Linked DNA regions of Homo sapiens. The protein of the gene in region 2 purifies or fractionates together with the protein of the main gene of each other region. This does not show direct contact. Each region holds a gene or a part of one and is shown on either strand. Other genes may lie near its edges. The genes, in order: COLEC12, FRMD3 and FAM234B.

Region 1 (3,654 bases), on a different chromosome or scaffold from region 2:
GTTAATTGCCAATTATGAGCCATCTATGTTCATTTAATCAGTGATGTAGTTTAGACCATGAAGGCAAATGTTCAGTTCTGAAATGAAAGTAATTTTCAAATTGCAAATGTGTTAAAACAGACCTCAGGGATAGAAGGAGTGAGTTGTGCTCCACGTGGGGAAGTATTAGTATTGGTTGCATTCCAGCTGCCGTCACTGCTATCATCATAAAAAATGCAGGGATAATTCCCAAAGTGAAGTTTGTAATTGTAGTAATGAAACAGTTTTTCTATTTGTTATAGTAGTGGTAGAAAATTGATAAATATGTGTAAGTATATTTAGATTACCTAGGAGCACTGTTTTTTTTTTAGTACTATTGCTCACGTGCCTACTGATGACATGATATTTTTAAAGATCTGTGTTTCAAATCCAGTGTCCGGTTTTATCCAGTAAGGATATGACATCAAGGAATCACAACATTAAACAAGTTTGTCTCTAAATAAGTATTCGGACAGATGTATGTATAAGTATGTTTTTAAACCATATGATGTCATGTCTATTTCATCAGTAGTATTAGTTTTCCATTAAGCTGTCATATTTCTGTTTTATTATTTATAATTGGGCCACCAAGTTCTAACTAGCCTTCATTTATTCTTTAAACAAATATTTGGTATTAACTTTCTGTGTGCAAGGCCCTCTAGAAATGCCAAATAAAATGAATAAAATATAGCTTCTGTGCTCATGGAGCTTGCAGTCTGGTAGACAAGACAAGACTTATGCGTAAACAACTGGAATCCAAAGTAGAGAGTAGAACATGCCCTGTTTGAGGTTCAGATAATCTGGCTGAAGACAGGGACATTTTCATTTGCAGGAGAGATTTGAATTATAGTTCATATTTCAGATTACATTATATTTCATATCTTGAATTATATTTCATATTACATTAATAGGGCAAGCAACATTAAAGAAAAATGTCTTAAAAGAGAGGAGGGCTGAGCCTGATGACTCGTGCTTATAATTTCAGTGCTTTGGGAGGCCAAGATGGGAGGGTTGCTTGAGGCCAGGAGTTTGAGATCAGCCAGATCAACACAGCAAGATCCTGTCTCCACAGAAAATTTAATGGGTGCGGTGGTGAGTGGCTATAGTCCCAGCTACTTGGGAGACTGAGGTGGGAGGATCCCTTGAGCAGTGGCACAGTCTTGGCTCACTGTAACCTCTGTCTCTTGGGTTCGAGCGATTCTCCTGCCTCAGCCTCCCAAGTAGCTGGGACTGAGTACAGGTGCGTGCCACCATGGCCAACTAATTTTTGTATGTTTTGTAGAGACAGGGTTTTGCTATGTTGCTCAGGCTCGTCTCAAACTCCTAGCCTCAAGTGATCTGCCCGCCTCAGCCTCCAAAGTGCTGGGATTACAGGCATGAGCCACCGTGCCTGACCTGAAATCTCTTAAGTGTGACATTTCAGTGTGGGAGGTGAGAGGAAACCAAATTCAGAGTCTTCTTGAATTGTGTCTCTTAAACTCAAAACGTTGGTCCAACATTTGTAAATAATTATAGTATATTGCTTTGGCATAATTGTTTAGATAATCTAAACAACGTTAATGGATTTCAAAACAAAAAGACGTATCGGTGTTATTTTTAAACCAAAGACCTCTTTTTTTTTTTGTCTCCAGAGAAATGGACAGCATTAGTTTTTCTTGCCAAATCACCCATGTATTTGAGGCCCTGCCAAGGCCCTTATTCAATTTAAGGCAGAGATTCAAGGCCTCATTCTGACTCTCTTATTAACATGATTAAAATGACTGGATGAGAATTTTCCTCATAGAAGAAAGGGAAGTGCATCACCTCCACCATAATCACCTATGAATGATGAATGCAGATGTCAAGGTTTTGGATGTCGTACTTACTGATTACTTCTAAGTTCTTGCAGTTGGTGGCTGTGGGGAAATCTGATTTAGCCCCCACTGCCAACTTAGGGGTAAAAGTAACAAAAACACCCTTTCTCAGTTTTGTTAGACTGTAAAGGAAGGAATAGGGTACCCATGCCTCTTTATTCTAAAAGCAAGTATCTGCCATTTTTACAAGCATCAGAATTGCAAGTTGTGCCAGAAATTGGAGTCATTTTATGTCTATAATTTTGACTTTTGACTTGAAAAAACTGTGCAATTGAATCAAAAGTGATCCCATTGTTGCAAAACAAATTCAGTAAGCAGCTGAGTAATCAAAATGAATCTCCTGTGATACTTTAAAATAATCTACAAGTATTTAAACTGCTACAGATTCCTTCATCCATTTGGAGTGAAACAGTTGAATGGAAGGCCGATCTAATTACCCCCCTACAAAATATCCTGAACCTCAGATACTTTGTTACGCTGCATTGAGTTCATTCACCAGGAGAATACATAATAACTGTGTTCCAGAAATGCCAAGACTGGAAAAAGGAAACCATGCGGGGAGCCAGGTTTACATTTGTAAAGCTATAAAACCAGGGCAAATATTACCGATACTGTGCTTAGGGACATATCAAGATAAAAGGACACCTTTCTTCAGTTTTTACAGCCCAAAATACGTTAAGATAAATTTTCATCAATATCAACCAGGTACTTCAGTGCCAATTTGCTGAAGCCCAAATAGAACCTGCAGCACGCATTACTCTTTTGCTCATCAAGCTTTCCTGTTGGTCCTTCCCCCAAATAGTCACCTCAGAATGGAGTTTTGTGTCTTTTGAAGCCAGATGATTAAAGTTCTAGGATATTTATTTTGGACCTTAAGGCATAGTAGCTTTTACCACTGCCTCTGTCCTCTTACTTCAAAGAAAATTCATATTTATTAAGCAGATGGTATGTGTTGGATGTTTTCCATGTGTCAGTTCACATTTCCCTCCCCAAAATGTGTGAGATAGGAATCATTGGTTCCAGCTTATAGGAGACTGAGAGGCAGACATGAGCTTATTGCTATTACAAGGTGGAGCCAGTCTTCAAACCCAGGTCTTTGAATTTCAAAGCCCACACATTACCATTAATTCTATCAGCCTCTGGTGTTAGGAAAGAAGTCTTCCAGATATCACAGCAACATCAAGGGGACATTCCAAATATTTAGCAACCCAGGTGACACACTGTGGAAGCCACCATTCCCATATGAAAGCAACTCCTTGGAGCACTGGTCAGTGGAGAGTGACTGTAGACTCAGGGGTCCTGATGGCCCCAGGGATACAGGGGCAAGGACCTGCTACAGTGGGTGGTGGTGACAGTAGAAACAGGGACAGCTTGCAGAAATGCTCAGAGCAGAGGCCATTGTTCTTCAACCAGCTGGTTTGGAAGCACTTAAATATTTTAACAACCAGTGATACCATACCATTTTGTTCTAAGAGTAATGACAAATGTACAAGAGCTGGGAATGGACCCTGGTCTAAACACGATAGAGCAACCAATGGGTACTCATATGTAGACAGCGCCAGTGGGCCAGCATGGAAGAGAAGTCTAACTTCAGCCTAGTCCCTGTCCACGGTCCTTCAGGCTGGCTCCTAAAAATGTCTGCATTTGCTATGATGTTTGGTTTGGCATTTGTTGGAAACCTGCTTTGTGTCAAGTATTGAAGGCTCCAGCTTCAAACTGCGTCTTCTGTGGTTTCAGGTTGAACTCCACACTCTGGCTCTTTGGGGGCATTTTCTGGTTATCT
Region 2 (3,654 bases):
ATTTAAAAAATTTTTTTTAAAACAAAATAAAAAATCACTAAGGCTCCAACTAAAGACTGAGAGCATCAAACCCTCTGTGTTTCCCTCTCTGAACTCTCATGTGGGTGAAGGCTTCTAGACATGTAGATTTTCCGAAGGCCAACTGGTCTCCTTCCTTATCAGTCCCCAAACATGCAGGAGGCACACAAAGACCTTGAGGTGGTGGTGGTCACAGGAAGGTCTACTGGTACACATCACCTTCTCCAATCATTCCTAGCACAGCATTTTGTGCGTCATCTCACCCAGTGGTGTTCAAATTATGCTCCTGGGTTTTCCCAGGGCTGATGGGTTTCCTGGGACATGGGGATGTCAGTGCTAAACTTAGGAAAGGCATAGGCAACCTGGACAACTGGTCACCCAAGCTCCTGAAAAGCAATGAACAATGGGCAAAGACCCTTCAATCTCCAATCCCATCCAAGGCCCCATCTACCACCACAACTTCTCTTTTTATCTCCTTTACATGCTGGACTTTGCCTATACTTCAGATTAAGGAAAAGTATTCTGTGGCCGAAACTGGTTTCAAAATCATTATCCAAGCCATCATTCTCCTGATGGTTCTCATCAGCCAAAGCCCAGGAGGTTCAGAGACAGCATTTTCAGGGAGATGAGTCTAATCAGGAAGACAGAATCTCACTGTAAGGGGCAGGGGGACTGATCAAAAGCCACCTGGATGAGGTCCAGGGGTGTACAGTGCTGATGGCCTGAGCAGGGCTGGACTAGGTTCTTAGTTGCATCCACTACCACTGCCTTTCCAGTCAGCAAGCGTCTCTCAGAGAAGAAGGTGTAACTCCATGCACAGATCTCAGTTTGAACTTCTTTTGAAACCTGAGAGCTTTACAGATGGTTTCTGAAGTCTTGTCCAGCACCTACTTTCTATGATCCTAGGCTCTGACAGCATTCCACCCATAAACCTTTGGCTCTATTTTCAATACACTGAAGCCTTCTTACTATGAACACAGGTGACTCTCTGCCAGAGGTCTCTTTTTCTGGTTGTGAAAGCACATCCAACCCATACTCAGAGTAAGCCAGAAATATCAGAGAGTATTAATTCTGGCCCCCAAAGCAGGCTTCAACCAAAATAAATGGCGAATTGGTAGATAAACAGCCCCACCTCTTTGCCCATCAGCAGGAGAACTGTGAGGCATATTATACCATGTCCCAGAGTTCCTAAGAAGATCTGAGCCCAGTTGTCCACAGTAGTGACCTGCTCAATAATGCATCTTATATTGCTTCCCCATCTCACCACCCCCCACCACTCCCCTACTGGTATGTCCATTGATTACATCCCAAATAAGCTACTTGTACCAAACTATCTCAAGGTCTGCTTTGTGGGGGTGGGGGGAGGAGGGCAACCAAAAATTGATCCTGTGACATATTTTGTGGAAATAGCTATTTGAAATACACACACACACACACACACACACACACACACACACACACACACAGTGGCCCACAGCCATTCCACAGGAAACATCCAACATAGAGCTCAGAACTCGGTCAGGCCAACAAGCCAACAATCACCGGGAGTCACCCTGAACAATGCACAAAATTTTAATTTACTTAAATATAACTTTTAAAACTGTATTAAAAGAAATAAATATGCAGCCATTTGCAAAACATAAAGAATTCCATGGGTGCTTTTAAAAGCTATAATTAAATGAATAAAAGCCACTTACTTATAAAAGGCCTGGTTTTCCACTCCACACTTCCAAAGATGTTTGCAGGCAGCTGGTGTTGAAGTATGGAATGCCAACATGGCTTTTTTCTAATTAAAAAATAACAAAACAAGAAAAGGCACGTAAAATACCATTTACATTTTCCATGGGTTTTTTTTTTTCAGGTGTTTACCTCTTTGTATCCTATCTCCTATTACACAGACTTGAAGTAACTTAACATATTGCTATGTTATTTACAGTGTTATTAACATGGTATTCACCCCTCCCTCACCCTTTGCAGATATCACTAATGTATCTAGGACCTGTTTCTGATCAAAATCAGCCTCACAATGCTTCTCAACACTCCAGGCATCATCTACCTCTCTGTCACACTGGAATTAGCCTAAAAACATATTTGCCATCCTTGAGGAACTAGTACTTGGGCTGAAAACTCATGACAAGAAAACCCGCAAATTTCTAGAGCTACCTCTGAGGCTTAATATTTTGTTAATGGTCTCCGCACAAATGCATTCCCTGGTGAATCCACAATCTATATCTAGTAACTCCCTTGTTTTAAGACTCTCTGGACTAATAGGCTCTGTTTATAACACTCTAATGAGCACTGGTTGTTGAATATTTAGCTTTGTAAGTATTCTTTATTTGTTTCACATGTCTGTATCTTGGCAAAAAGAGGTAGGGAGAGGTTCCATCTTTTATTTCCAAAGTCTATCCCAGTCTGTTTTGCACATGGGGGTGTACAATCAGCATTGCTTACTGACTTTATTGTTCAATGTACAAACCCAGTACTCATTTGTTTGCCTCTAAAATATTTTTAGCATATAGCTTTCATTATCACCATACACTTCAAAGTCATGGTCTTTGGCGACTACAATACTAAAGGCATATTTTACTCCTGAATCTCTCTCATGCACACACAATAACAGGCAGTTAAAAAAAAGCAGTATCTGACCTCCTTCTGGGTGCCAATCACATAAAATGTCTTCCCTTCAAACTTCAATTTGCAGACATCTGGCCTAAGAAAAGAAAATCTCTGGGTAAGAAGAAAAAAAGTGGCAGCTAACCAAGGTACCTGGGTTTCCCATAGGAATCTGACTCAAAAATGCCAGGCAGATTGCAGTGAAACAAGGTATTATCATTGGTGAAGGTCTAATGGGCAGTGAAAAGCCTCGAGTGAATTATACAGCAATTCTCTTCCCAAGAGAGGATCCGCACAGAGCTCAGAATTATTTATTCTATTATTTACAGTCAGGCTGCATCGTTCTTCCAAGAAGCTCTAGTGTTCGTGAACATTAATGATCAGAACAATATTAATTGCCCAGCCCACTTAGCAAGGTGGGAAGAACGTGGTGATTTCAGATTCAGTTAATGAAATGATGCGGATTCACAGTATCTGACTTTCTCCTCCTTCTGCATCCATTTCCAAGAAGCAAATCCACTGCACTGCAAAATGTTCACTCCTGTTTTCCCTGTTTACAAAAGAATTGTGTTCTTATATATTGGAGTTCCCATTCTTTTCAGCAAGGACCGGTTTAAATAGAAACATGTGACCCAATTCTGTCCAATTAGGTATACAGGAAGTCTCCTACAGGGCTTCTAAAAAATTATCCTTGTTTGAAAAGGAGACACATGGAAGGGGCTGCTCTCCTCCAGGCTCCGGGCATTGCCATGGGGAGATGTGCAGGCCAGTCCCGCACATGCCCATCTCAGGAGCAGGAGCCTCAGGACCAATGCGCCTGACTGAGAATGGCAGAGAAAAAAAAAAAAAAAAACAGAGACCTAAATCCTTCCCGGCATTTAAGTTAATAGGCAGTTAAGTTAACAGACCAGGGAACTGCTCCACGTTTGCTCTGTGAGCTGATTAGTCCTCTTATTTGTAAGCCATCATGAGTAGACATTCCTACTACCTTTTGCCAAAAGCATCTTCACGGATACACTGGAT
Region 3 (3,654 bases), on a different chromosome or scaffold from region 2:
ATGGTGGTAAGGCAGCAACCACACTTGTGTATTCAGCTCCCTCTCACACTTCTGGCAGCAAGATGTGAACACAGAGTGCCTGTCATCTTTGCTGAACACGCTTCTCATGTAAGACAAGAGCTGTGGCCTCCTCTACACTGTCGAATGCATCTCCACTTCTGCACCTTTCCCAACACTACTCTTTACATGTCTGCCACCTCGGCCCCAACTAAATGGTGATATCCTTAAGGAGAAAGACTGTCTCACTAATCTCTGTACCTACAGCAACCGACTGTTTGCCTAATAAGAGACAGGAGCAAAATCAAGAATGCGAAAAAGTAGTTAAGAACAAAAAACCAGGAGGAAAAGATATGCTCGGAAACATGAGACTGATCCAGAACGTGTGCAGCGCGGGGAGCAAAATACCTGAATTCTAATCATCACTAATAAATGCTTCCTGAGAGCAGAAAAATATTTTCTTTTTTGAAAAAATAAACTTGAAGATTACATATAGCAATGATGAGTGGGTCTTGCTAGTCTAGAGTTCTCTGGAATCAATTGATTTGGTCCCAGTCAGGAAAAAATATTTGGGAAGACCTAATACCTAGATCCAAGTACAGCTGGTAAGGGATTAGAGTAGCCATGATCCTTAGTAAATAAGCCTTTATGTCACTTAATTACTACATCAGACTCAGAACTTTCTCCCTTGTCAGTTTCACATTCACTCTCAGGATAGGGACACGTGACTCATTTCATACAGTTCCCACTTTCAGCAACAACTAATATGGATAAGGAAACAAAACTTTTAGAGCTTCCTTCTACCTATTCCTCAGCACGACTAATTGAATATACAACCTAAAAACAAGTGACAAACAATGGCTGGCTGTTTCAGACCCTGTTGCCAGAAGATATATATGACAAACAGAGGTGGTATATGGTAACTTCCAGGCTTCTCAAAGGTGCTAGGATCCCTATCCTGTGTGGTTCTTCCTACTGGAGGACCCTACTCCATCCTACAATGCTCTGACTCGTCTTTTCCCAGATGGTGATGGATTACCCCTTCCTGCTAGACTATGACTTCTCGAGGCCAAAGCCAGGCTCCTCTTGTTCGGCAGTCTGTGTGTAACCATCAGAACTCTAGAGAAGGTGCAGAGTGGCTGCCGCACAGTTAGTATCAACACACAGTTGCTGAATGAAGGAACAAGTGAATAGACAAAAAACTCAATCCCTCTGTGTCCAGTAGCACAAAGCTTTGTGGGTTATGGGCACAGCAGCTTGGCATGAGGGTCAAGGACATGAACTCCAGAGCCAGACTCCTTGGATCCGAATCCCCAGCTCTATCATTTACCAGCAGTAGGACTGGGCAAGTTCTTTAACCTCACAACGTCTCACCTTCCTCATGTGCAAAAGGGGGATAATAATGGGTCTACTTCACAGGACTGTGTGGAAGGATAAATTCCTTCATACGTTATGTGCTGACAATGGTGTATTAACACATAGAAAGCACCATATGTTCGCTATATCCTTATTTGTACAGTCTGTGGCCAAATCAGCCTGGTCCATATTGTGTCCAAACCCATGGCCTTGCCATTATGAGTCTTGGTATGAAGCAAACTACGTAAGATACCAAATGACTAAAAACATCTCTAAATCTAAGTAGATGGGGAAGATTTTTACTTCAGAAGTCACGGGCAGGAAAAGTGTAATCAAGTTTTGATTGCACGGAAATCTACTCCTAGGCTGGAGATGCTCTCTACAGCAGATCTCCACCCAGATTGCTTCCACATCTCATGTGGGCCTCAGAAAGCCACTCCTACTAATGTAAGAGATGTGGTTTAGAATTCTCTAAAACACACCTAGACATGTATTCCAAGGCCTAGACGACTTAAAAGCAGTCACTAGGGCATCCTCAGCATCAAACTAGGTCCCTGCATCAGCTCACAGGCTGCAGTTTGACTCCACTGTAGTGGAGGCTGCAGGATCAACCAAAAGCCTTGTGTACTTAGGCTGAAATCAGAACGCATTTTTTCTTTTTCTACAGCTGACATGTGTAAAAGCTGGGATCCCAGAAACAGCACCCTAAATGAGGGTAAGTTGTGGACGGTTTCTTAAGGAGACTATTCACAAAGATGTGGCCAGCATGTAGAAACACCACAAGTGATAGTGCAGACCCTCAGAACTGTTAGGCTCCCCAACAAAGACACAAGGAGAGGACGCAATTACTGGAATCCAGAAAAGGAAAGTCCTATAGGAGGGCCACCTTGAAACGAGCTGTGACCCAGGGTCAAGGCTGTAGCAGCCATTCTGCAGTGACCCCGGCGGGGAGGGAGCCAGGGGAGTGAATACCTCCCCTCACACTCTTACTCCCCTCCCATTCCTGAGCTGTGCTCCCCATTGAAAGGAGACCAGCAGGCAAGGAAGCCTGTTGATACCATCCATACAGCTCAGCTTCCCCATGCAGAGAGCAGGATGGACAGCAGGTCTACAAGTGTAAACTGAAGGGGGAAAGGAAAACACCCGGCCAAGAGGTATTTGTGTAAAGATGTATAAGTCTATGAACAAAAGTTTTCTTCCAGGGATAGGAGGGTAGCATAAAGTCAATGTTCACTATAATCTAAGAGGCAATGGAAAACCAGGAGAAAACCCAAGGAACCCGAGGACTAACACTGTTCGTTGCAAAGTGTGTGGACAAGTCACTTCCTCTCTGCATCACAGTTTCTTCACTGGCCTGGTCACCACTAAAAATTCCTTCCAGCTCTAACTCCCTCCGATTTCTTAGACTGAGCTTTATTTATATGTGGAAGCTTTCTGATGAGGGTTTTCATGTATGCCAGAACCATGGTAACTTTCTGTTCACTGCAGATCCTTCTCTGCAGTACCACTTGGGACACAGCTCTGATGTTTTCTCCTAGCTGACAGTGCCCCTGTAGCAGCCTTGAAAAAAACACGTCTCTTACCTACTGCACTCCCGTTCCTTGACATCACAAAGGAGAGAAGCACATCACGCAGGCCATCTCCATTCACATCAGCCAATTCCAATGGAGACAGGTCCCCACCTGTTATACACATAAAAAACCAAAAAGGTCCTGAGCAAGTTACCACAAACCAGTTCTCTGTTGCCAGTAGCTCTATAAACACCAGGCAGACTCCAGTTCCTCGACTAGGTATAGTAGACACACCTCTCCCTACTCCCCCTGCTAAGTGCATGGAAAAGCCCTGGACACTGTACATAAAACAAACATAAGACAACTCTAAAAGGCAGAGAGAAGGAAGCAGACCAGCTAGGGACTGCAAGACCCAAGGAATGACAAGGTGATGAGTCCCCTGGGTTTTCTTTTGGCCTCATAATACCCAGATAGGGTGCTGGAAAAGCCAGCAACCCAGAAACACCACAGATACAGACAAAAAAAGCCCCAGAAAAGGCTGCCTTCCCTAGCCAAAAGCCCAGGAAAGGTGCAGTCCAGCAAGACAGGAAAGTTGTAGATAATAACTGCTCTACTCCAACCAAACAGATAAAATTATCAGCCCAGCTCCACCCACTCATATAGCAAAGGCTGAATGTGGAGCCTGGCTCCCACCCTCTCCTGGATGTAACAAGGTACCCCACCACCACCACCACCATCAGGGTCATGTCAGAGAAAGCCAGGTGGGGGCAAGGACTGTCATCCTCATCTA

Evidence for each region.
Region 1: the proteins of FRMD3 (region 2) and COLEC12 purify together in Homo sapiens (affinity purification with mass spectrometry; 2 studies listed by BioGRID and IntAct, with this or other methods). This does not show direct contact.
Region 3: the proteins of FRMD3 (region 2) and FAM234B purify together in Homo sapiens (affinity purification with mass spectrometry; 2 studies listed by BioGRID and IntAct, with this or other methods). This does not show direct contact.

What each region holds. Positions count from the first base shown.
Region 1 is NC_000018.10:490,682-494,335, reverse strand, and holds part of COLEC12 (collectin-12), read left to right. Parts: intron 1-3,654. UniProt on the Homo sapiens protein: Scavenger receptor that displays several functions associated with host defense. Promotes binding and phagocytosis of Gram-positive, Gram-negative bacteria and yeast.
Region 2 is NC_000009.12:83,307,821-83,311,474, forward strand, and holds part of FRMD3 (FERM domain-containing protein 3), read right to left. Parts: intron 2,729-3,654; coding exon 2,665-2,728; intron 1,805-2,664; coding exon 1,716-1,804; intron 1-1,715. UniProt on the Homo sapiens protein: Putative tumor suppressor gene that may be implicated in the origin and progression of lung cancer.
Region 3 is NC_000012.12:13,057,832-13,061,485, reverse strand, and holds part of FAM234B (protein FAM234B), read right to left. Parts: intron 3,036-3,654; coding exon 2,937-3,035; intron 1-2,936.